Linked DNA regions of Homo sapiens. The protein of the gene in region 1 purifies or fractionates together with the protein of each later gene. This does not show direct contact. Each region holds a gene or a part of one and is shown in the gene's direction. Other genes may lie near its edges. The genes, in order: GBA2, VPS13C, AFG3L2 and SKAP2.

Region 1 (5,749 bases):
ATGGGAAAAAAAGACACGTAGTACAAGGTTCCTCACCCTGATTGAGGAACCTTCACCAAAGTTCAGCTCCTCTGCTGATCACTCCCCTGGAGGTCTCCTGGCTTAGGGTCTAAAAAGCTCCTTCTCTCCCAGGCTTAGATCTCTAGCCTTCTTCCCTCTTCTGAAGCTTCACTTTTTTCCTTTTGCTCCTGCATCACATCTGGGCCTTAAATTGCCAGAAGTATGTGTCCTGCCTCTCATCATCTCTCTCTAGTTGACCGCCCCTTTAGAGTTGCCTAGGAAGTTCCTCTTTCTTGGCTCCAGCATTCAGCCTCATCTTCAAAGGAAAAATGACTAGCAAATCTTTAGTCCAATTAATGACAATACCCTTCCTGGTTCACGTTTACCAGCCCTGCCCATGTCCCAAGATCCCTCTCTGCCTCATCCCTTAGGTATCCTGAGGGGAATGGCTTCCAGAATTGTGACTCTACAATTAAAGTAATTATTGCATGCTTAACATGTGCTAGACACTGTGCTAGGCTCTTTGTATACTGTTTAATATTAAAAACAATCCTACAAGGGAAGTACCACTATTATGCTCATTTTGCAGATGAGGACACTAAGATCCAGAGAGGTTTAGTAACATGCGCAAGGTCACAAGGTTGGTAAATGGAAAGGTTGGGATTCAGAACCATTTCTTTCTGGGGTGAAGAGCTTGTGGTCTTAACCATTATGTACCATTCCAACAAAATGAAAAATTATTTTATACAGTTGTCCCTCAGTATCCATGGGGGGTTGGGCCCAGGACCTGCTATCCGAGGATGCTCAAGTCTTTGATTTGAAATGGCTTATAGTATTTGCAAATAACCATTGCACATCCTCCTATATACTTTAAATCATCTGTAGATTACTTATAATACCTCATACATTGTTACATAAACCCTTGTTGTGCCGTACAGTAAATAAAGTGTGTACATATTCGGTACAGACACAACTTTTTTTCCACATATTTTAGATTTGGTTGGTTGAATCCACTGATGTGGAACTCACAGATATGGAGAGCCCACTGTATACAATAAAAATATTTGACATAGTTTGAACCAGGGAAAGGGATATTAATCCCTCATAGCTCCTACCCTCCAAGAGCTAAAACTTTTTTTGAGAAAATAAGACTTAGGGGAAATGGAGACTGTGAGACCACATCAGTGCTAAAAGGAGAGGGGTGGATAGTATACTGTGGAAAAAGGGACGGTGCTGCAGATTTCGCTCATTCCCTCCACATACATGCCAACTCTGAAGAAGGGTGCATCAGTGAATTAAAAAATGTCCCTACCCTCAGAAGAATCCATACAGCAGTCAGGGACACAGAATGGTCAGTCAATACATTATAACATAATACACCAAATGCTAGAATAGAAGGGGAGGGGGGCACACATAATGACTCACTGCTGGAAGAAGTAGAGGAGGAAGAGATGGCTTTTGACCTAGGCTTTGAAGGATGAGAGGTTTCACCAGATAGCGAACAAGCATGAGCACAGGCATGGAGGAGAGAATGTAGTGTGCTCAAGGAACAGTGAGTGTTTTTATATGAACAGACTATAGGTGCTTGAACAGGTGATGAGTCTGATGGGCAGGGAGAGGCCAGCTCAAGAAGGGCCTTGAAAGCCAGGCAAGAGTTGAGACTTTAGCCTGAGGGCCATGGGGAGTCACTGAAACATCCTAACCAAGGACTGACATATCTTGATTTGCCTGTGAGAAAGATCACTCTGCTACCCAGATGAAAAGGGCCACAGAAAAAGCAGGAGATTGGGCTTAAGTGAGGTGCTAACACCACCGTAGTGGAGAAGGGAGAGAAAGCTTGGGAGATAGATGGATGGGGAGGTAGCAGGACTTGGTGATTCACTGAGCCTGGGGGATGACTTGAAGCTGATGGTGCAGTGGTAACAGTTGCAGGCTCTGAAAGGGGAGGAGCTGATTTGAGGAGAGGGAAGACTTAGTCTGTGGTCCCTGTGGTTTACCCCGTTCCAGCCTATCTGCCCTCTTAAGTTCACAGTGTGCCTGCGTCGGGAAGGGCAGACTGTGTACCAGCAAGTCCTGTCCCTGGAGCGCCCAAGTGTCCTCCGCAGCTGGAACTGGGGCCTGTGTGGGTACTTTGCTTTCTACCATGCCCTCTATCCCCGAGCCTGGACTGTCTATCAGCTTCCTGGCCAGAATGTCACCCTCACCTGCCGTCAGATCACACCCATCTTGCCCCATGACTACCAGGTGAGGCCCCCACATCTGTATCTTCCATTGCCCTCCCTTCCCCAGGACCTGCCTCTGCTAGAAACTGCATGGCCTGCGAGGCGCGGTAGCTCACGCCTGTAATCCCAACACTTTGGGAGGCCAAGGCAGGCGGATCATGAGATCAGGAGATCGAGACCATCCTGGCTAACACGTGAAACCCCATATCTACTAAAAATACAAAAAAAAAAATTAGCTGGGCGTTGTGGCAGGCACCTGTAGTCCCAGCTACTCGGGAGGCTGAGGCAGGATAATGGTGTGAACCCGGGAGGCGGAGCTTGCAGTGAGCCGAGATTGCGCCACCGCACCCCCCAAAAAAAAAAAAAAAGAAACTGCATGGCCTGTGAAAGGGAGGTTGGAGCCATGAACATCACACTGGCTTCCCAGAACCACCGCCCAACTGGTTCTGGTCTTCTATATTCCCTGCTAGGCAGCTTGCCTGGGAATATGGGGAGATGCAAGTGGACAAAAGAAGAGTACACTGGGGAGTATTTGAGTCAGGTCCTCTGTGTGCCCAGGACTGATCCTAGCAGAGTGGGGTCAGGAGGCGCTCTACTGGGACCGTCTGAGTCTAATCTTCTGCCCCCAGGACAGCAGCCTGCCTGTAGGAGTCTTTGTGTGGGATGTGGAAAATGAAGGGGACGAAGCTCTAGATGTGTCCATCATGTTCTCCATGCGGAATGGACTGGGTGGTGGAGACGATGCCCCAGGGGGTTTGTGGAATGAGCCCTTCTGTCTGGAGCGTAGCGGGGAAACTGTCCGGGGGCTGCTCCTGCATCATCCAACCCTTCCAAACCCCTACACGATGGCTGTGGCTGCACGAGTCACGGTAAGGAAAGAGCCTGCCCTATACCTTAGCCCCTGAACCCCACCTCCACCCCAGCATGGTCTCTTCATCCACCCTCATCATACTCCTGTAAGCCCCTGGGCCTGGGAGGTTAAGAGTAAGTAAGAGGAGCTGGGGAGCTAGCCGGGACCCAGTGTACTCGTGGAGCCTGCCCTCACAGTCCCTGACCCCTTCACAGGCAGCTACCACGGTAACCCACATCACAGCCTTTGACCCTGACAGCACGGGGCAGCAGGTGTGGCAGGATCTACTTCAGGATGGACAGCTGGACTCTCCCACTGGTGATGGGGGGTCTGACTGGGAGATGGTGGGAAGAGAGGTTGTCCCTGTCTTGGGACCAGGGGTGGGAGGCCTGGTAATAAGTAGGCCTTGTTTCCATGTTAGGGATCCCTATCCCTGGGGCTGAAGGGGCTCCTGTCCTGAATTCTCTTGTGTTTCTCTCAGGCCAAAGCACCCCTACGCAGAAAGGAGTAGGCATTGCTGGAGCTGTGTGTGTTTCCAGCAAGTTGCGACCTCGAGGCCAGTGCCGCCTGGAGTTTTCACTGGCTTGGGACATGCCCAGGATCATGTTTGGAGCTAAAGGCCAAGTCCACTACAGGTGAGGGGACCAAGAAAGTGTAAGGATCCAGAGTGCTGGGGCTCTGACCTGGGGCTTGTGTTCATCCTTCCCCTTCCCACCCCAGGCGGTATACAAGGTTCTTTGGCCAGGATGGAGATGCAGCACCTGCCCTCAGCCACTATGCACTGTGCCGATACGCAGAGTGGGAAGAGAGGATCTCAGCTTGGCAGAGCCCGGTATTGGATGACAGGTGCCAGTGGGGCCCATTTCTTGCCTTTCTCCTGGGCACTCACTCCAAATGGGACTCCTCGATTTACTCTCCACCCACCAAAGTCAGTAGACTTGCACTGGGATTCATTTGATGATCCCACTCTGCTGAACCCCCAAATCCTTTCCATCTTGGGAGGTACATGTTCCTTAAACCATTTCCTCCTCCTCGCTTCCCAGATCACTGCCTGCCTGGTACAAATCTGCGCTGTTCAATGAACTATACTTCCTGGCTGATGGAGGCACAGTGTGGCTGGAAGTTCTTGAGGACTCCCTACCAGAGGAGCTGGGCAGAAACATGTGTCACCTCCGCCCCACCCTACGGGACTACGGTCGATTTGGCTACCTTGAGGGTACAGGATGCTGGTGGGCTGGGATATGGCAGGCCATCCCCAAGTCAGGATGATGGATTTGCCTACCCCAGGGTATTGGTTAGGATGAGGGGGTGTTGGGTGTGGACTAGTAACAATGCCCCACCTCTAAATCTAGAGGACAAGCTACAGAGGGGTTTGAAGGGGAAGCAGGAATTCTGGCAACAGTGTGTCTCATTCATTCCTCCAGGCCAGGAGTACCGCATGTACAACACATATGATGTCCACTTTTATGCTTCCTTTGCCCTCATCATGCTCTGGCCCAAACTTGAGCTCAGCCTACAGTATGACATGGGTGAGGATCCCTTTTGTGCCGCTTCTGCCCTCTTGGCTCCCCATACCCCCGAACTTCTGTGGTCCCTCAGATTGTCTCTTCTTTCCCTTCCCTTCATACGTATCTGCATGCTGCTTACTGGTTCCCCACTGCAGTCACACACATAGCTGTGTGCCCCTCCTCAGGCATGCCCATTCCCTGCCTCCCTTCTGTGTCTCTCCCCCAGCTCTGGCCACTCTCAGGGAGGACCTGACACGGCGACGGTACCTGATGAGTGGGGTGATGGCACCTGTGAAAAGGAGGAACGTCATCCCCCATGATATTGGGGACCCAGGTAAAAGTCCACCCCAAGGTCAGCTTCCCTCCCTCAACTTTTGCACCCTCTACCCTATCCACCAATGCAAGTGACCCAAGTCCCCTCCTCTCCCACAGATGATGAACCATGGCTCCGCGTCAATGCATATTTAATCCATGATACTGCTGATTGGAAGGACCTGAACCTGAAGTTTGTGCTGCAGGTTTATCGGGACTATTACCTCACGGGTGATCAAAACTTCCTGAAGGACATGTGGCCTGTGTGTCTAGTAAGGGATGCACATGCAGTGGCCAGTGTGCCAGGGGTATGGTTGGTGTCTGGGAAGAGCCTAGCTGGTTGTTGCCTTTCCTCGGTACCTAGGTCTTCAACATCTTGGTCCCTCTCTAGGCTGTGATGGAATCTGAAATGAAGTTTGACAAGGACCATGATGGACTCATTGAAAATGGAGGCTATGCAGACCAGACCTATGATGGATGGGTGACCACAGGCCCCAGGTTAGCGGGTAGGGGTTTCCAGGAGGCCTGAGGTGAGAAACTGGGCAACAAGGGATTGTAGGGCTCAAGAAAGAATGACTCATTGTCTATTACACGGCATGGGAGCAGCTGGAGCTGCCAGTCTGACCCCCAAACCCATGTCCCTGATCAGTGCTTACTGTGGAGGGCTGTGGCTGGCAGCTGTGGCTGTGATGGTCCAGATGGCTGCTCTGTGTGGGGCACAGGACATCCAGGATAAGTTTTCTTCTATCCTCAGCCGGGGCCAAGAAGCCTATGAGAGACTGCTGTGGAATGGTGAGTTCGGGGAGCCTAAGTAGTCTTAAGGCAGCTGAGAGGACACCAGGAGCCTTATTTTTCTC
Region 2 (5,749 bases), on another chromosome or scaffold:
TCTTCTGCAGAAATCAAGTATTTCTTCAGAATACTGGCAATATTCTTTCCAGTGATTCCTTATAGTTTGTAAACATTTGAAACTTGAAAACGCACCGGAGTAGCAAATCTGAAATCTGAATAGGCCTAGTGAATGGTGTGCTGTGTTGGACAAGCCACTTACCTTATTGGGCCTTAGTTTCTTCATCTTAATTTAAACTTTATAGAAAAAATATTTTTAAATTCTGAAAAGTTTAAATCATACTGGATGATATAATACTTTCATGTAATTACTCATATTTCAATGTTATAATATTATGCCATATTTACTTTAGACATTTTCTTTTTAAAAAGATAAAACGTATGGATATAGTCAGAGGTTCCATTGCCATCAAATGTTACTCTCTTTTATCTTTAAAATTGGAGGTTGGACTAGGTAACATCGAAGGTGATGCCAATATTCTGTTCTTCTGATAATGGTTTTACCATGACATTGAGGAGTATACTGCTTGAAGATTTTGAAGTTTTTCACAACTGAAATTAAAAATGTCGTAATTTTATGTTATTTCCCCTTTTGTCTTTTTTTGGTGAAATCTAGAAAAGGAGACTTTCTTTCATCTCATTTTTAAATTTTTAGAATAAGGTATTCTGCCAGTGGCCAACATTAACTTTATAATAGGCCTGAGCAAATAAACCCATTTCTTTCACATATTGTGTCTAGTGAACATCCAATCAGGGATTCTCCTAGCTTTATCAGCTCACAACTCTGCCTCTGTAAAGCTTTGCTGCCTTTTATTTTTGTGGTTGCTATAAAGCTAGAAGTCACGAGCTTTTATCATTATTGCACAGTCTGTTGTTGATAACCCTAATTTCTCAATAAAATTGGAAGGCAAGATATCTGAGTTGATTTTTCCTGTTCTTTCAAAATATTGCTAAAGAAATTTGTCTTAAACTTTTTTGGGTAAACAAATGGGAATATTAATTTAATAAAATAGGTGACATTTTATGATAACCATGATGTTGACAAGTTTTACAAAAAATTGAAAATTCTATATAATCTTCTTTGACAACTATTTGCTTTAGCAGATAAGGTTTACAGTTCACAGAGTTTTTTTTTTGTTGTTGTTGTTGAATTTTCAAGTCTTGAGAAAGGGAAGAATTCATCTTGTAAATATTTCACTGTAGGGACCAGCCCCACAGGGTCGGTGGGTCTCTCCCTGTGTGCGGCGACGAGAGAGTGTAGAAATAAAGACACAAGACAAAGAGATAAAAGAAAAGACAGCTGGGCCCGGGGGACCGCTACCACCAATGCGCGGAGACCGGTAGTGGCCCCGAATGTCTGGCTGCGCTGTTATTTATTGGATACAAAGCAAAAGGGGCAGGGTAAAGAGTGTGGGTCATCTCCAATGATAGGTAAGGTCACGTGGGTCACGTGTCCACAGGACAGGGGGCCCTTCCCTGCCTGGCAGCCGAGGCAGAGAGAGAGAGGAGACAGAGAGAAAGATAGCTTATGCCGTTATTTCTGCATATCAGAGACTTTTACTACTTTCACTAATTGACTACTGCTATCTAGAAGGCAGAGCCAGGTGTACAGGATGGAACATGAAGGCGGACTAGGAGCGTGACCACTGAAGCACAGCATCACAGGGAGACGGTTAGGCCTCCGGATAACTGCGGGCAAGCCTGACTGATGTCAGGCCCTCCACAAGAGGTGGAGGAGCAGAGTCTTATCTAAACTCCCCCGGGGAAAGGGAGCCTCCCTTCCCTGGTCTGCTAAGTCGCGGGTGTTTTTCCTTGACACTTTTCGCTACCGCTAGACCACCTTCCGCTCGGCAACGGGCGTCTTCCTAGATGCTGGCGTTACCGCTAGACCAAGGAGCCCTTCTGCTGGCCCTGTCCGGGCATAACAGAAGGCTCGCACTCTTGTCTTCTGGTCACACCTCACTATGTCCCCTCAGCTCCTATCTCTGTATGGCCTGGTTTTTCCTAGGTTATGATTGTACAGCGAGGATTATTATAATATTGGGATAAAGAGTAATTACTGCAAACTAATGATTAATGATATTCATATATCTCTAAGATCTATATGGTATAACTATTCTTGTTTTATATTTTATTATACTGGAACAGCTCGTGTCCTTGGTCTCTTGCCTTGGCGCCTGGGTGGCTTGCCGCCCACCTCACATACCTGATCTTACTATTCTTTGGAATCAATTGATAAACTACTTTGATACATCTTAACTGGAATGTCTAACTAGCCTAAAGCAGTGATTTTCAGTGGGAGGTGACTTTGTACCCAGGGTATATTTGACAGTGTCTGAGACTTTTTGGTTGCCACACTGAGGGAAGAGGTGTGCTATTGGCATGTAGCAGATAGACCCTGGAGTACTGCTAAACATTCTACAATGCAGAGGACAACTTCCTGCAGCGAATTGTCCAGCTCAAAATGTTAGTTGAGAAACCCTAGTCTAAGAAGAAGACTGAGATTGTCTTCTGCATTTGTAAGGGACCTACTGGGTGCTGAAAAAATTGTAAGGTTTTAAAAAGGACACGGAAGAAGTAGATTACTCTTAACGAAATCTGTAATTCGAGAGAGAAATTGATATCTTAAGTGACTGAAAGGTATCATGTCAATAAAAATGCGTAATCTTTGCTTGGATGATCTTTGGAAGTAGTTTTAAGATCGAAATATTGTGTTAACATGATTTGGAAAACATCATAGTGTGCATATATTCATATATGTATATATAGGCGTTCATAATGAAATTTACAATTAAAAAAGGTTGAGAGGCCAGGCACCGTGGCTCACACCTGTAATCCCAGCACTTTGGGAGGCCGAGGCAGGCAGATCACGAGGTCAGGAGATCGAGACCATCCTGGCTAACACAGTGAAACCCCGTCTCCACTAAAAAAAAAAAAAAAAAAATACAAAAAATTAGCCGGGCATGGGGGCAGGCGCCTGTAGTCCCAGTTACTCTGGAGGCTGAGGCAGGAGAATGGTGTGAACCTGGGCGGCAGAGGTTGCAGTGAGCAGAGATTGCACCGCTGCACTCCAGCCTAGGTGACAGAGCGAGACTCCCGTCTCAAAAAAAAAAGGTTGAGAAGGTTGGGGAAAATTACTGGAATGTCCAGAATCAGGAAGTATACTTTAGATGTTGCCTTTAAATTTGAGAAGCAAAGCAAACACAGCCTACCATTGTCTTTCTGTTTCTGTTCTTTAAAGATTTTATTTAATGCCAAGCAATTCTTATGTATTTTTAAAAGTAGTTTAAGCAGAATTTCCTTTTAAAAATCCTTGCCACTGTAGATAATTGAGACCTTGGTTATTTATTAGCTGTGGGACCCTGGGCAAAACATTTCAGTTCTCACTCTCGTAATCTGTAAAGTGGATATACAACTTTCAGTGTATTGTTGAGATAGATTATGTCAAAAACCTTTGTCATTGTTGATAATATTGATAATAATAATGATTAACAAACCTGGCTGGGTGATGGAAAACAGTCTTTGTTTTATTTTCATAAGGATGTTTCTTCTAACTTCAGACTTTTAGAGGTATTAATATTCTTCTTCTTCTTCCTCTTCTTTTTTTTTTTTACTTCTACTTTAAGTTCTGGGATACATGTGCAGAATGTGCAGGTTTGTTACATAGGTATACATGTGCCATGGTGGTTTGCTGCACCTATCAACCTGTCATCTAGGTTTTAAGCCCTGCATTATGTATTTGTCCTAATACTCTCCCTCCCCTTGCCTCCCACCTCCTGACAGGCCCTGGTGTGTGATGTTCCCTTCCCTGTGTCCATGTGTTGTCATTGTTCAAATCCCACTTATGAATGAGAACATGTGTTGTTTGGTTTTCTTAGAGGTATCAATCTTCTATTGAGTGATAATTTTGTGTAGAGCTATCATTACATATCTAAACATTTCTTATTTTCCAAACAAATTTCTTTTAAAAAAAACCTCTATTTGCCTTTGAATTTATGCTTATGCTTTTACAGTATTACCTGCCAGCTAGTTTGTAAGTCAGGCTTTCAGAGGTTCAGAAAAGTGCCTGGTGGGTACATACTGCCTACATAAGTAGGAAGGTTTATCTAGATTTTTGTTCCCCACAAACTGGTACCAATAGATAAATTTCACAGCCCTTAGCTATTGAGATGTGTCCAGGATATAATTGTTTTAAGAGTAACATATATTTGAAAAGGTATGTTGAAATGCCTCATCTTTTGCAATATGATTTGAGTAGTATTGTTGCAATGTAGAACCTTTGTCAATTTGATTTTTCAAAATGATTTACTGTGGAGAGTCAGCAGGAAAATCCTCCAGTACTCGGAACTCTGTTGTTCTTAATTCCACTGGACAGGTGGAATCAACATAGGAACTGTGATGTGTTAGATACAAGGGTGACTCTGGTGACCAGGAATAGAAGCCAAGTGCAATGCCCTCAGAATCTGTGGCCCTGCAAACCAGACTGAACCCGTGCTGTTTATCCCACTCCTGACAGTTTATCCCACTCTTGACACTTCCCCTTGAGCTGCCAGATATTGTTGGAGCAGTGCAGCATAAGAAAGGAGAATGAACACTGGACTGGGAATGAGCAAACCTCTTTAATCTTATTCCATCTCTGATTCTGTCTAGTTGTGTGGCTTTTGGCATGTCTCTGACAAGTGACCATTGGTTGCTTATCTGTAAGTGGAAAGGTTAGACAAGGTCATCTCTTCTGTCTTTAAACTTCTGTGATTTGAGCAAGGCAAGAACAACGTGAGATCCTTCATTGGATGAGTGGTACTGCCACTTCCTCCGCATTCATAGAGAGAAAAGGTAGTTAAATAATGTATCTTTATCTTTCCTTTTTGCTCTTCACCCGATATTGGTGAGTAAAGAGCCACAGTCAATGACAGTGACAAGATAAATGAAGTTCCAGGCTCATGCTGATATTTGTGGGTCCAAGTGTAATATACTGTAATATATTGTCTTAACAGGTACCTGTAGGGCAGCTTGAGAATGAAAGAAAAAGCAGCTCTTTTTGCTTTTTTTGGCTTTGACACATAAAAGATGTCAGTATCTAGGTATTTCTAAACCTGTAGAGGGATTTTCTTTAGTCTTTTCCTCCCAGCCAGCACTTGGTGTAGTGGAGGCCACATTTCTCATTAGCTTGTCCTATGGCATATAAAAGTAAACAATAATGAAAAGGTCATTAGTGTAATACATATTTAGGCTCAGTTACTACCAGTTAAAGCGGTGCTTAAAAATTTAAATTTAAGCACCTGTTCACATATTTAAGTAGCATTACTAATTAAAAATTAACTCCTTTTCTAGAACTAAAACTGAGAATTGGTATTTTGGTAACCATTCTGCTAGGAAGCTCTACCACATTACTCAATATTATGGGATCCCTGAAGTGAACTGAAAGGGAGAAAGTTCAGTGGTGATGTTGCAGCTTTCTACCTTCCTTTGTCAAAACTTCCTGTTTCAGTAGGGAAATGGGAAGAGTGAGAGAGTTGTTTCCTTTCTCTTTCCTGTCTTCCTCTCTGAAGACAAAGTCACTGTGAACTCATTAAAAGGAGTCTAGATTGGTTAATTTGGGTTGACTAGCTAGATTCATTTGAAATGAATAGCTATAATATTTTCTTTGGTATTCTTTTTTTTTTTTTTTTTTTTTTGAGACGGAGTCTTGCTTTGTCGCCCAGGCTGGAGTGCAGTGGCACAATCTCGGCTCACTGCAAGCTCTGCCTCCTGGGTTCACGCCATTCTCCTGCCTCAGCCTCCACAGTAGC
Region 3 (5,749 bases), on another chromosome or scaffold:
GAAACAAAGTTTTTTTGTACTATAAAATGGAGCTAATACATGCACAGTGCTTGAAATGGGGTCTTCTAGCTAGTAAACTCCATAAATGTGAGCTGTTAAAATCAGTGTCCTCATGGTTGTGTAAAGGCAGTGTGACATTGTGGTTAGGACACTGGTTCAGGAGCCAGACTGTCTGGGTTCAGATCCCAGCCTCTTATTTCATGTGTGACCATGAGCAAGTTTTGTCATCTGTAGAATGGAAACAGGAGTCAGGGCTCATATTCAGTCAGTAGACACGAGTACAATAGGAAATAATTATGTGCTGATTGGTAGAATAGCCTTGACCTGGCCCCTGAGGTGTCCCTGTGCTGGGCCCTCTGGGTCTCTGCAGCTCTAGAGAATAAAGAGGGAGTGCCTGGCACAGCAAGGCGCATCTGTTCCAGTTGCACAGTGGGGTGCGGTGCTCGGATTTTGAACATCACCCCCAGTGATGGCACCTGCTTCTTAGGATGGTCCTCAGGATTGAATGAACTAATGCATCTGAAGGGCCCAGAACAATGCCTGGTACTTAGTACATGCCCAGTAAACTTTAGCTCTTATCCCTGTTTCACAGTAGTTTTAAATTTGGGAATAGGGAGCTAAAATACCTAGGAAATAGAGGAAGAGGGAAATAATGCATATTTATTTTAAAAAGGATTACGTTTTCAAATAGGTTTTTCATTCTGTTTTTTGAGTTTATAATTTTAGAGCCACTGAGATATTGCTGCTAAAGAAATGCTTATTTGCCAAGAATTGCCAAGTGTTCTCAATGAGTGACATTTAATCACCACCATTATTAAAGCCAGTCTTTTATTATTGTTTATTCTTTAATTTATAAATTTTCAGTATTTCTGGAAAATTCTTAAAAAGTTGAACCGTTTAGTGAATTGAACCTTTTAGTTTCACTACATTCTTAGGATATTTGTTTTTTTGTTTTTATAGCAATACGTTTGGTTTAATATTGGCAGTGTGGACACCTTTGAACGGAATCTGGAAACTTTACAGCAGGAATTGGGCATAGAAGGAGAAAATCGGGTGCCTGTTGTCTACATTGCTGAAAGTGATGGGTAATCTCAAATATAATATTTTGTAGACTGTTGACTGTGCTGCCTGTGGTTCACTGTGTTCTGTCCCTGGGTGCAGGGCTATACATTATATTCTCAAACAGGCCTTTATCAGTTTGGCCAGATTTTTAAAAAACTATTAGTAACTCACTAGTTTTTGCATGACTCATTCATTTTCTTTTTTTTTTGAGGTGGGGTTTCGCTCTGTCGCCCAGGCTGTAGTGCAGTCGTATGATCTTGACTCACTGCAACCTTTGTCCCCACCCCAGTTCACGCGATTCTCCTGCCTCAGTCTCCAGAGTAGCTGGGATTATAGGCTTCCACCACCATGCCCAGCTAATTTTTGTATTTCTAGTAGAGGCAGGGATTCACTATGTTGGCCAGGCTGGTCTTGAACTCCTGACTTCAGGTAATCCACCTGCCTCCGCCTCCCAAAGTGCTGGGATTACAGTTGTGAGCCACCACACCTGGCTTTTTATCTTTATTTTTATTTTTATTTTTATTTTTGATTCATTCCTTTTGTACACATTTATACTTATCTTGATGAAGCAGTGGTTTAGGGTATTAACATTCAATGCATTGACCTTTGGTAGGATTTTAGCATAAAGAACCCCTTTGTATCAAAGAGTGCCATTCCCATCTTTGAACTATCATTTATGTTTACATTTCACAGTTTTCCAGGATTTTTAGGTGATTCTTCTCTCATCAGAACTTCTTCTTTGGGGGTTGTCTTTAATAAGACCATGTTAGTAACCCCACTTAAAGTCTGGGCAGATGCTCCATTTATTTCGAAGAGTTGGTTGCCATGGAGCTTATTTGGGAATTCTGTTGCCTTTGAAGAACACTTGCAAGTTACCCTCCTTTGTATTAAGTGCAGAAGGTATACCTTGGTGTAGCTATATATATTTATATTGATATCTTGCACCACATGTGAAAGCTGGAGGTGAGCAGCCAGTCCTAACCCGTGTTGCGCTGTGTGTCCCCAGCTCTTTTCTGCTGAGCATGCTGCCTACGGTGCTCATCATCGCCTTCTTGCTCTACACCATCAGAAGAGGGCCTGCTGGCATTGGCCGGACAGGCCGAGGGATGGGCGGACTCTTCAGTGTCGGAGAAACCACTGCCAAGGTCTTAAAGGATGAAATTGATGTGAAGTTCAAAGATGTGGCTGGCTGTGAGGAGGCCAAGCTAGAGATCATGGAATTTGTGAATTTCTTGAAAAACCCAAAGCAGTATCAAGACCTAGGAGCAAAAATCCCAAAGGTAAAATGAAATTTAAGATTAACTTTTTGAAATGTTTCTTGATCTCTGAAGTTATAATTCTGTGAAGTTTGATTACTTATTATAGATAGCTGTTTTTCTGTCCTTCCTCTTTCTCAGCTTACTAGGCTAGCCTCTGCCCAACTCGAGGATCGTTTTGGGTCAGTTCTGTGTGCATGTGTCTTGTATAGTGTATGTATTCCTGAAAATATCTGTGTCACCTCCTCTTGGAAGATTTTCTTGATTCGTCTTCCTTTTCCCTCCAATCTGATTTAGATGCCCTATCTCTCAGCAACTGTAGGCCCGCTGTAGCTCACTGACAATGTCACACTCTGCTGTCACCCAGTGTCCCTTCGAGGGATGTATGTGGACAGGACACCTGTGCTGGCGCTGAGGTTCACGGCACAGGATCCAGTGGAGAGGACACAGCACTCACCATCACCTTCCCCTTTCCAGCAAATATGCTCTTGCCCACTGTGCTAGTGGTGGGCTGTACCCTACAGGGCTTGGTGCCCCTAGGGCTAGGCGTGGAGCATTAACTTCATATTTGTTAAATGGATCAGCTATTAAGTAAATGAATAAAAAGGTATAATTCTTTTAAAAGTCCATGAATAAATTTTACTTTAAAGGAATCCTTTGAAAGATAATCATTTCCTTGATTTTTATGTCTTACTTCTATAGATAAAAAGTCATATTTTATGAATTTATAACTTACTTAGTACCCGTTTGCATTACACCTAACTGTCTCTACAACTTAATATAATAGTTGTGTAGGGCCAGGCGCAGTGGCTCACTCCTGTAATCCCAGCACTTTGGGAGGCTGAGGTGGGTGGATCACCTGAGGTCAGGAGTTCGAGACCAGCCTGGCCAACATGGTGAATCCCTGTCTCTACTAAAAATACAAAAAATTAGCTGGGCATGGTGTTGTGCGCCTGTAATCCCAGCTGCTCAAGAGGCTGAGGCAGGAGAATCGCTTCAACCTGGGAGGTGGAGGTTGCAGTGAGCCGAGATCGTGCCATTGCACTCCAGCCTGGACAAGAGTGAAACTCTATCTCAAAAAAAAAAAAGTGTATTGTTTGAGCAAACACATCTTTCTTTGAAGTTAAGTTCATCATTGGTCGTTAGATTTCTACTTCATTTGTGAAACTTTTAAAGAAGAAAATAAGCAAAATTTTAAAAATACCTTAAGGTTTTATTACAAAGCCTAGAAAAAATATCATTTGACCATATTATCTACCTCCTCACAGTATTTGGATATGGTAGTGTGGTAGTATGTCTATAAATAAGAGAGGATACTGTTTGTGGGTAGTCAGTGGAAATAAAAACAAATTCACAGTTAGGTTTTAAGTTGCACGTCCAACCATGCTAAAAATGTACTGATTTGTACATGAAAGTAGAAGTCAGAAGTTGGGTTTATTAATTATTTGAGCTCAAAAACCAATTTTACTTGTAAAGAGTAAAAGAATTACATAAATCAGGAGTGTGGTGTTGGTGTCTTCTTAAATTATTTAAGTAAACCTTAGCAGATTTATTAGTATATTCCTAGCCCAAGTCACCCTTTACATACTGTTAGACTAAAGGTCTAAAAATCAGCCCTAGGAAAAAAAGGAAATATTTTAAATTTCACATTCTTACCAAATTTTTTGAAACAAAATTATTTTTGATAATCTTTTTATTCTTACTAATATAAAAATGTTCTACCATAGCTCAGATGTTTAAGTAATATTTAATATATATCAATAAGATTTAGAGACAGAGTTATATCTTGTAATTATTTGTGGATACACAATTTACTTTTCTGGAATTCTCATTAAATGTAATTTCTTTTTTCATATCTGAAGGGTGCCATTCTCACTGGTCCTCCAGGCACTGGGAAGACGCTGCTAGCTAAGGCCACAGCCGGAGAAGCCAATGTCCCCTTCATCACCGTTAGTGGATCTGAGTTTTTGGAGATGTTCGTTGGTGTGGGCCCTGCTAGAGTGAGTCTCATTCTGTTCGGATGGTACAGCTTCCTTGCACCCACCACTTCACCACAGATGGAGGCACTTGCTAGAGATGGCCCTTCCCCCTAGAGTGCTAGAGTGACCTCTCACCAGTCCCTGGCCTGAGCTCTCCTCCAGGCCTAAGACTTCAGCAAGGCCTGTGACTTCCACCCCACCTTCCCTCGCACCAGCTAGGACTGCAGTCTGCTACCTATAGTAGACCAATTTAAAGAATTGACGGCTGGGCGCGGTGGCTCATGCCTGTAATTCCAGCACTTTGGAAGGCTGAAGTGGGTGGAACGCTTGAAGTCAGGAGTTCGAGACCAGCCTGGCCAACATGGCGAAACCCTGTCTGTACTAAAAATAGAAAAATTAGCCAGGCGTGGTCGCGCATGCCTATAATCCCAGCTATTTCGGAGGCTGAGGCAGGAGAATCTCTTGAACCCAGGCGGCAGAAGTTGCAGTGAACCAAGATGACACCACTGCATTCCAGCCTGGGCAACAGAGTGAGACGCTGTCTCAAAAAAAAAAAAAAAATTTTGCTTTATTTGTGGATTTTTTTTTTTTTTGGTGACAACATTTATTGAGATATAATTGACATACCAAACAATTGATCCCTGTAAAGTATACAGTTCAGTAGCTTTTAGTAATTCACAGATTTGTGCAACCATCACCACAATCAGTTTTACAACATTTCCATTACATCAAGAAGAAATCGTGGCCGGGCGTGGTGGCTCACACTTGATATCCCAGCACTTTGGGAGGCCAAGGCAGGCGGATCAGGAGGTCTGGAGATCGAGACCATCCTGGCTAACATGGTGAAACACCATCTCTACTAAAAAAACAAAACCAAAATTAGCCATGCGTGGTGGCGGGCGCCTGTAGTCCCAGCTACTTGGGAGGCTGAGGCAGGAGAATGGCGTGAACCTGGGAGGCAGAGCTTGCAGTGAGCTGAGATCACGCCACTGCACTCCAGCTTGGGTGACAGAGTGAGACTCGTCTCAAAAAAAAAAAAAATATGTAAATCGGGAGTCCTAAGCAAACTACCCAAAGGAATTTCCTAGTACAGACATTCCATGTAAATGAAATTATACAATATGTGGTTTTTTTATGCCTGATTTCTTTCACTTAACATGTTTTTGAATGGTAACTCCATGTTTAACATTTTAAGGAACCACCAGACTGTTTTCCAAACTACTTGCCCATTTTCCATCCCTACCAGCAATGTGTAAGGGGTTCTGATGTTTCCCCGCCCTTACCAACACTTTGATGATAGCCACCTTAGTGGGTGTGATGTAGTATCTCGTGGTTTTGATTTGCATTTCCATGATGAGGAGTGATGTTGAACATCTTGTATATGCTTATTGGCCATTTGTATATTTGTATATCTTCCTTGGAGAGTTGTCTATTCAGATCCTTTGCTCATTT
Region 4 (5,749 bases), on another chromosome or scaffold:
GAGCCCAGTTTCCTCCAATTGCAGCACAAGACCTTCCTTTTGTTCTAAAGGCTGGCTACCTTGAAAAACGCAGAAAAGGTAAACTGAAGGTTCTAATGAAAAATGTAAAAATAATTTCATCCTTAGATAGAACATGTTTGTAGTATACATGTGGAGGCAGTATTCGTTTTAGGTGATTAAAGAGTTTAAAGATTGTAAGAAAATCTGGATGACATTATCCAAACCACAAAATATAGCTCTTAGCTTTAAATAATTTTTAATAAGAAAACATTAGGTTAGGTTTTTAGTTGTCAACCTTGGTTATTTGTAAATGATTCAGGAGCTGTTTCCTGCCTCTCAAAGGAAAGCTGCAGGCCATGACTGTATTCTCAAAGGTGGGATTTCTCACCAGTATCTCAATGGGCTGAGCAGCAGGTTCTCCTATGCCCAAACTGGCATGCACCATGGTTCAGATCAAGCCTGGAGTTTTGTCTGCCATTGTCTATTATTCATTTCAGTGTTCCTCTCCATTGGCTATGATAATTGGGAGTTGACCATATGGTCTCACTCTTTCAACACCAATATTTAATGGAAATGAAATATGGAGGTGGTTTTATAATATGAGAAATGAAAAGCAGACAGTCTTTTCATTACCATTCTGCTTATCTCTCTTGTAGTCCCTTTAGGCCTTTCTATTTATATTTCATTTTGCTTTTCTTAGCTTTCTTAGCTGAATTTTAAAACTGAAAGAGATAACAGAAATAATCTAGGTTAGCTCCTCCCCTTCTTTTTATAACAGATGAGAAAATGAGACCCAGATGGATCAATTATCTCAAGACTGTATAGTCAGATACCTTTTTGACTGTCCCTGTCAGAAAACTTTGTTAGCCATGCTGTTGATCCCATAAGTATGGCAGCCCCATAGCTACTTTACTTTATTCCCTTTAGCTGTGTTGGTTTGTTGTTGTTTGGTTTTTTGTCTCTTGGAAAAGAAGATACAAATTAGTCACACAATGTTAGAGCTCAGAGGAATCTTAGAAATCATATTAATTAACTTTTTCTTTTACAGTAAGGAAATGGCCTTACATTTTCCCCTCTTTATTGCAGATCACAGCTTTCTGGGATTTGAATGGCAGAAACGGTGGTGTGCTCTCAGTAAAACGGTATTCTATTATTATGGAAGTGATAAAGGTAATGTTGGTGTTCAATTATATCAACTACTATTGCAAAAGAATTTTTGGCCATCCCTTCCCCCTCTTTTGAGTACAGAGTAAACTGAAGACAAACTAATAATAACTGAGAATTATAACAATTATAATCTGACTAATTTATGATTCATTTCATTATTTGACAAATGCTCCAAATACCAGAATACCCTCAGAGCTAAAACAATTGTGTTGTATTGAATTAGAAAAGAGAGTAAAATAACTTTAATCTGTGTGGCCTTTCACCTTAGGGAATATTTATTATCCAGCCTACTGTTGTAGAATTTCTGGAAAAGTTAAGAACATAGGGTTGTGAGAGTTTCAATGGCAGAAAATAGATTATTTTTCTTAAATATTTTAAAATAAAATTAGATAAAATTAAATACGAACAGCACCTTTCTGAGCTCCCTTTACAGATTTAAGGAATAACAGCAAACGTGTACATAGAATTTACTATATACTGGGCACCGTTCTAAGCACTTTGTCTAAGTACGTTAGCTATGTTAACTTGTTTAGCTCACAACAACTCTGTAAGTACTATTATTAGCACCATTAATTTGACTTTTAGGAAAACTGAGAACAGAGAGGTTAAGTGACTTGTTCAAGGTCACAGAGTTGGAAAATGGCAGATCTAGGAATTTGTTTTTCCTTTGTTTTTAGAAACAGGGTCTTGTCTCGGTGCCTAGGCTGGAGAGCTGTGACTGTTCACAGGTGTAGTCATCACACCCTGCAGCCTCAAACTCCTGGGCTCAAGTGATCTTCCTGTCTCAGTCTCCCAGGTAGCTGGGATTACAGGTGCACACCGCTGTACCCAGCTCAAATTTGGGATTTTAACCTAGAGAATATGGTTAGAGTCCATGTTCTCAACCACTATTGTCACTACATTAATTTAGAAATAATAGGATACATTTTATAACTTCATTGTTAATTAATAAATCTCTCAGTTGTAGTTCACATAATTTTAAGATTGTTATTTGAACAAATAAAGCCACCAAATAATGAAATTTAAAGATTGTAAGCTTTCTGAGTTTTGTTTTATTCTGGGGAAAACAGGCTAGGAGTTGAATATTATAAAGTAAAGGTTGTATCAAAATAGATAATGTTCATTTCCAGAAAGGACACTTTAAGAAGAAAAAGGCAAAAGTATCACTGAATGTAAGCTTTCCTATGGAATTGTTATCAGTGTTGTTTGGAAATTTATGTTTTATTTGACATTATTTATAGTTTTTAGAGTTTTTTCCCCCATTCTAAAAACATACAGGTAAGATTGTCATATTTCAGATAAGTCTGAAATACTTACATAATGCTGGAAGTTGTTCTTACCTTTTGGCTAATGAGATTAACAAATTAATTAATTTAGTAGCTAGTTTGCATTCCATCACTAATTTACAGTATGTTCAGATGTAGTAATGGCATCAGTGAAGTGTAAACTGTAAACAGCTATAAACAAGCATCTTTCTTCTGCTAAGGGTCAGTAGTGAAGTAGGTCAGAAAATTTAGAGTCCAAGTTCAGTTACGATTATCACAGATCATAGAAATATAGTTTTGTATGATATTGTGAATTTAGATCGAGATACTACCTTCCACAAAATATCCTCTTTTTCACCAGACCAGGGGAGGGAGGTTTCAGATCCTTGTGACTTTGATTCAATTAGGCTTCTCATTTCTAATTTCTTTAAGAATCAATGAATACTAATGTCAGTGTTTCCTCCATTTCTAGTCCTGACTGGCATATAACAATGGTTAGGTCAAAGATTAGCAAGAGTTTCCCCAAAACCCAAAGCGTGTTAATATTTACTTCAAACACTAATATATTCAATGAAAACATTTTAGTTAGAGTTATTTAGATATTAGTTACATTCCTTTTTTTTTTTTTCTTTTTAGAGATGCGGGGGCCTCACTCTGTCACCCAAGCTGGAGTGCAGTGGTGCCATCATAGCTTACTGCAATCTTGAATTCCTGAGTTCATTTTTATTCTTATTTGATGAGACCTAATGGTAGTAACATTGTTTGTAATTTGCATTTTAACTACTTTGTGATCCATTTAGCCCTTTCTGTCATTTCTGTTACTGGAAGGGGGTCTTGATCCAGACCCCAGGAGAGGGTTCTTGGATCTCATGCAAGAAAGAATTTGAGGCCAATCCGTAGAGGGAAGTGAAAGCAAGTTTATTAAGAAAGTAAAGAAACAAAAGAATCACTACTCCATAGGCAAAGCAGAGCATAGGCTGCTCAGCTGCTTACACTTATTGTTACTTCTTGATTATATGCTAAACAGGCAGTGGATTATTCATGAGTTTTCCTGAACTGGGGTTGGCAATTCTCAGAACTGAGGGTTTCTCCCCCTTTTTAAGCCATATAGGGTAACTTCCTGATGTTGCCATGGCATTTGTAAACTATCATGGCACTGGTAGGAGTGTCTTTTAGCATGCTAATGCGTTATAATTAGCATATAATGAGCAGTGAGGAAAACCAAAGGTCATTTTCATCACCATCTTGATTTTGGTGGGTTTTGGCCAGTTGCTTTCCTGCATCCTTTTATCAGCAAGGTCTTTGTGATCTGTACCTTGTGCCAACCTCCTATCTCATCATGTGACTAAGAATGCCTAACCTCCTGGGAATGCAGCCCCCATAGGTCAAAGCCTTATTTTACTCAGCCCCTATTCAAGACGGAGTTGCTCTGGTTTAAAAGCCTCTGACACTTCCACTTTAAAAAAATTACCATTTTAGCATTCCTTTTTCATGTTGATGTCTGAAGATGTGGCTTGTGTTTCCTTAAATTTTTCCCTTTTACTTTGCAGCCTCCTGTTTCCAGTGAAATTTTAGATTTGTTTCTTGTGGTTCTTTTTTCTATTGGCGGTTTCATTCGAAATTTTTAGCCAGTTCCTCTCTTTTAAGGGACTCCAAAAAAAGATCTGTCTTTAGACAGTTTTTAATTACTTGTTTGGCATGATCCCGATTTCCTTCCTTTATATCTTTTTCTTACCAGGAAAATATGTCAAATAATTTTTTTCTTTTGTGAAATTAGATATGATTTTTTATAGCCTTGTTTACTGTATGTGTGAACCATTTACCTAATGGGAAGAACTCATATCTAGCTATATGAGAACTATAATCCTCCAACTAAGTAGGATTTAGATAAATGGATTATAGAGGCACAGAAGGAGTTGACACCACTTACTAGGTTAAACTGTGCTTTGTTACTGTTTGACAGATACATAGTTCACATTTTCTACCATATTGCGTGTGCCAAAAAACATATTGACCTATCAAGATAGGAGTGGCTTAGAAAGAGTAGTTCCAACCTGTTGGGTAAATAATGCACTTACCATTGTACCAATAAATATTGTCTGTATTTATTATTTATAGCCATTTGGGACCCTTAAGTAACAAATACATATAGTATGTATTTTAACACCTTATGAAATCTTATTCATCCTTTCATATCCTTCCTTTTCCTTTGATTGTCGTGAGTCTTATTCATCAAAATTCTTAGGTCCTAGATGTTCAGATGTCCTTCAAGTCATTCATTCATTCATTCACTTACTCATTCTTTTTCTAAATTTGATAAATATTTTTTCAGGCACTTGTTAGCTAGTAGGCACTGAGGATCCAAAGATCCTTAGAGGTGCTCACAGTTTGGGTTTTGTGGATATCAGTGAGAGAGGGAAGGATGCTGTGGGGTTGGAGGAGGGAGCTGGGCAGGTAAACTGACCATTTCAATGCAGTACAGTAAGTAATTTAAATAAGGTATCTTTGGATCACAAAGGAGGGAAACTAATTGCCTAGGGAAGTTAGGGAAGATGTCCTGGTGGAGAGAACACTTCATTGGGCCTGAAAGAATGAGTAGGAGTTTGTTGGTTGAATGCTATGGTGTGAATGTATGTGTACCTCCAAAATTCATATGTTGGAAATTAACTCCCAAGGATATTGTATTAAGAGCTGGGGCTTTTGGGAGGTGATTAAGGCATGAGGGCTTTACCCTCAAGAATGGGATATGTCTCTATAAAAAAGGCTAGAGAGAGCTGTGGAACCCCTCTCTTGCCTTTCCGCCATGTGACGGTACAGCATTCAACTCTTCTGGGGGATGCAGCAACAAGGTGGCATCTTGAAGCAGAGAGCAGCCCTCACTAGGCACTGACCCTGCTGGTGCCTTGATCTTGGACTTCCCAGCTCCCAGAACTGTGAGAAATAAATTTCTATTGTTTATAAATTTCCCAGTTTTGGGTATTATAGCAGCATAAACAGACTAAGACAGGGAAGAAGGGTAAAATGGGCTTTCCAGGTAAGGGAATAGCAGAGATTCTGAGTTGTGAAAGACTGTGGATGGGATCAAAAATGGAATGAAGGCTGGAGCTTAGAATGAGTGAGGGGAGGGAGCACGTAAGGCTAAATAAGTGGATTAGACCAGGTTGGTAAGAACCTTCTGAGAATAAGGGCCTTGCTAAAGATTTTATTTTGAATATGACCTTTAAGCAGAGGATTGTATGACCAGATTTGGTTTTTAGGAAGTAATTGTAATAGGATGATGGAGAATGGATTGGGATGGATAGAGTCTGGGTCAACAG

The links.
Region 2: the proteins of GBA2 (region 1) and VPS13C purify together in Homo sapiens (affinity purification with mass spectrometry; one large-scale study listed by BioGRID and IntAct). This does not show direct contact.
Region 3: the proteins of GBA2 (region 1) and AFG3L2 purify together in Homo sapiens (affinity purification with mass spectrometry; one large-scale study listed by BioGRID and IntAct). This does not show direct contact.
Region 4: the proteins of GBA2 (region 1) and SKAP2 purify together in Homo sapiens (affinity purification with mass spectrometry; one large-scale study listed by BioGRID and IntAct). This does not show direct contact.

The regions. Positions count from the first base shown.
Region 1 is NC_000009.12:35,738,167-35,743,915, reverse strand, and holds part of GBA2 (non-lysosomal glucosylceramidase), read left to right. Parts: intron 1-589; exon of another isoform or gene 590-623; coding exon of another isoform or gene 624-640; intron 641-2,007; coding exon of another isoform or gene 2,008-2,025; coding exon 2,026-2,244; intron 2,245-2,851; coding exon 2,852-3,091; intron 3,092-3,287; coding exon 3,288-3,390; intron 3,391-3,553; coding exon 3,554-3,707; intron 3,708-3,792; coding exon 3,793-3,918; intron 3,919-4,115; coding exon 4,116-4,288; intron 4,289-4,496; coding exon 4,497-4,601; intron 4,602-4,806; coding exon 4,807-4,914; intron 4,915-5,012; coding exon 5,013-5,164; intron 5,165-5,283; coding exon 5,284-5,390; intron 5,391-5,541; coding exon 5,542-5,684; intron 5,685-5,749. UniProt on the Homo sapiens protein: Non-lysosomal glucosylceramidase that catalyzes the hydrolysis of glucosylceramides/GlcCers (such as beta-D-glucosyl-(1<->1')-N-acylsphing-4-enine) to free glucose and ceramides (such as N-acylsphing-4-enine).
Region 2 is NC_000015.10:62,052,559-62,058,307, reverse strand, and holds part of VPS13C (intermembrane lipid transfer protein VPS13C), read left to right. Parts: intron 1-5,749. UniProt on the Homo sapiens protein: Mediates the transfer of lipids between membranes at organelle contact sites. Necessary for proper mitochondrial function and maintenance of mitochondrial transmembrane potential.
Region 3 is NC_000018.10:12,355,263-12,361,011, reverse strand, and holds part of AFG3L2 (mitochondrial inner membrane m-AAA protease component AFG3L2), read left to right. Parts: intron 1-960; coding exon 961-1,085; intron 1,086-2,068; coding exon 2,069-2,342; intron 2,343-4,180; coding exon 4,181-4,318; intron 4,319-5,749. UniProt on the Homo sapiens protein: Catalytic component of the m-AAA protease, a protease that plays a key role in proteostasis of inner mitochondrial membrane proteins, and which is essential for axonal and neuron development.
Region 4 is NC_000007.14:26,734,216-26,739,964, reverse strand, and holds part of SKAP2 (src kinase-associated phosphoprotein 2), read left to right. Parts: coding exon 1-78; intron 79-1,086; coding exon 1,087-1,170; intron 1,171-5,749. UniProt on the Homo sapiens protein: May be involved in B-cell and macrophage adhesion processes. In B-cells, may act by coupling the B-cell receptor (BCR) to integrin activation. May play a role in src signaling pathway.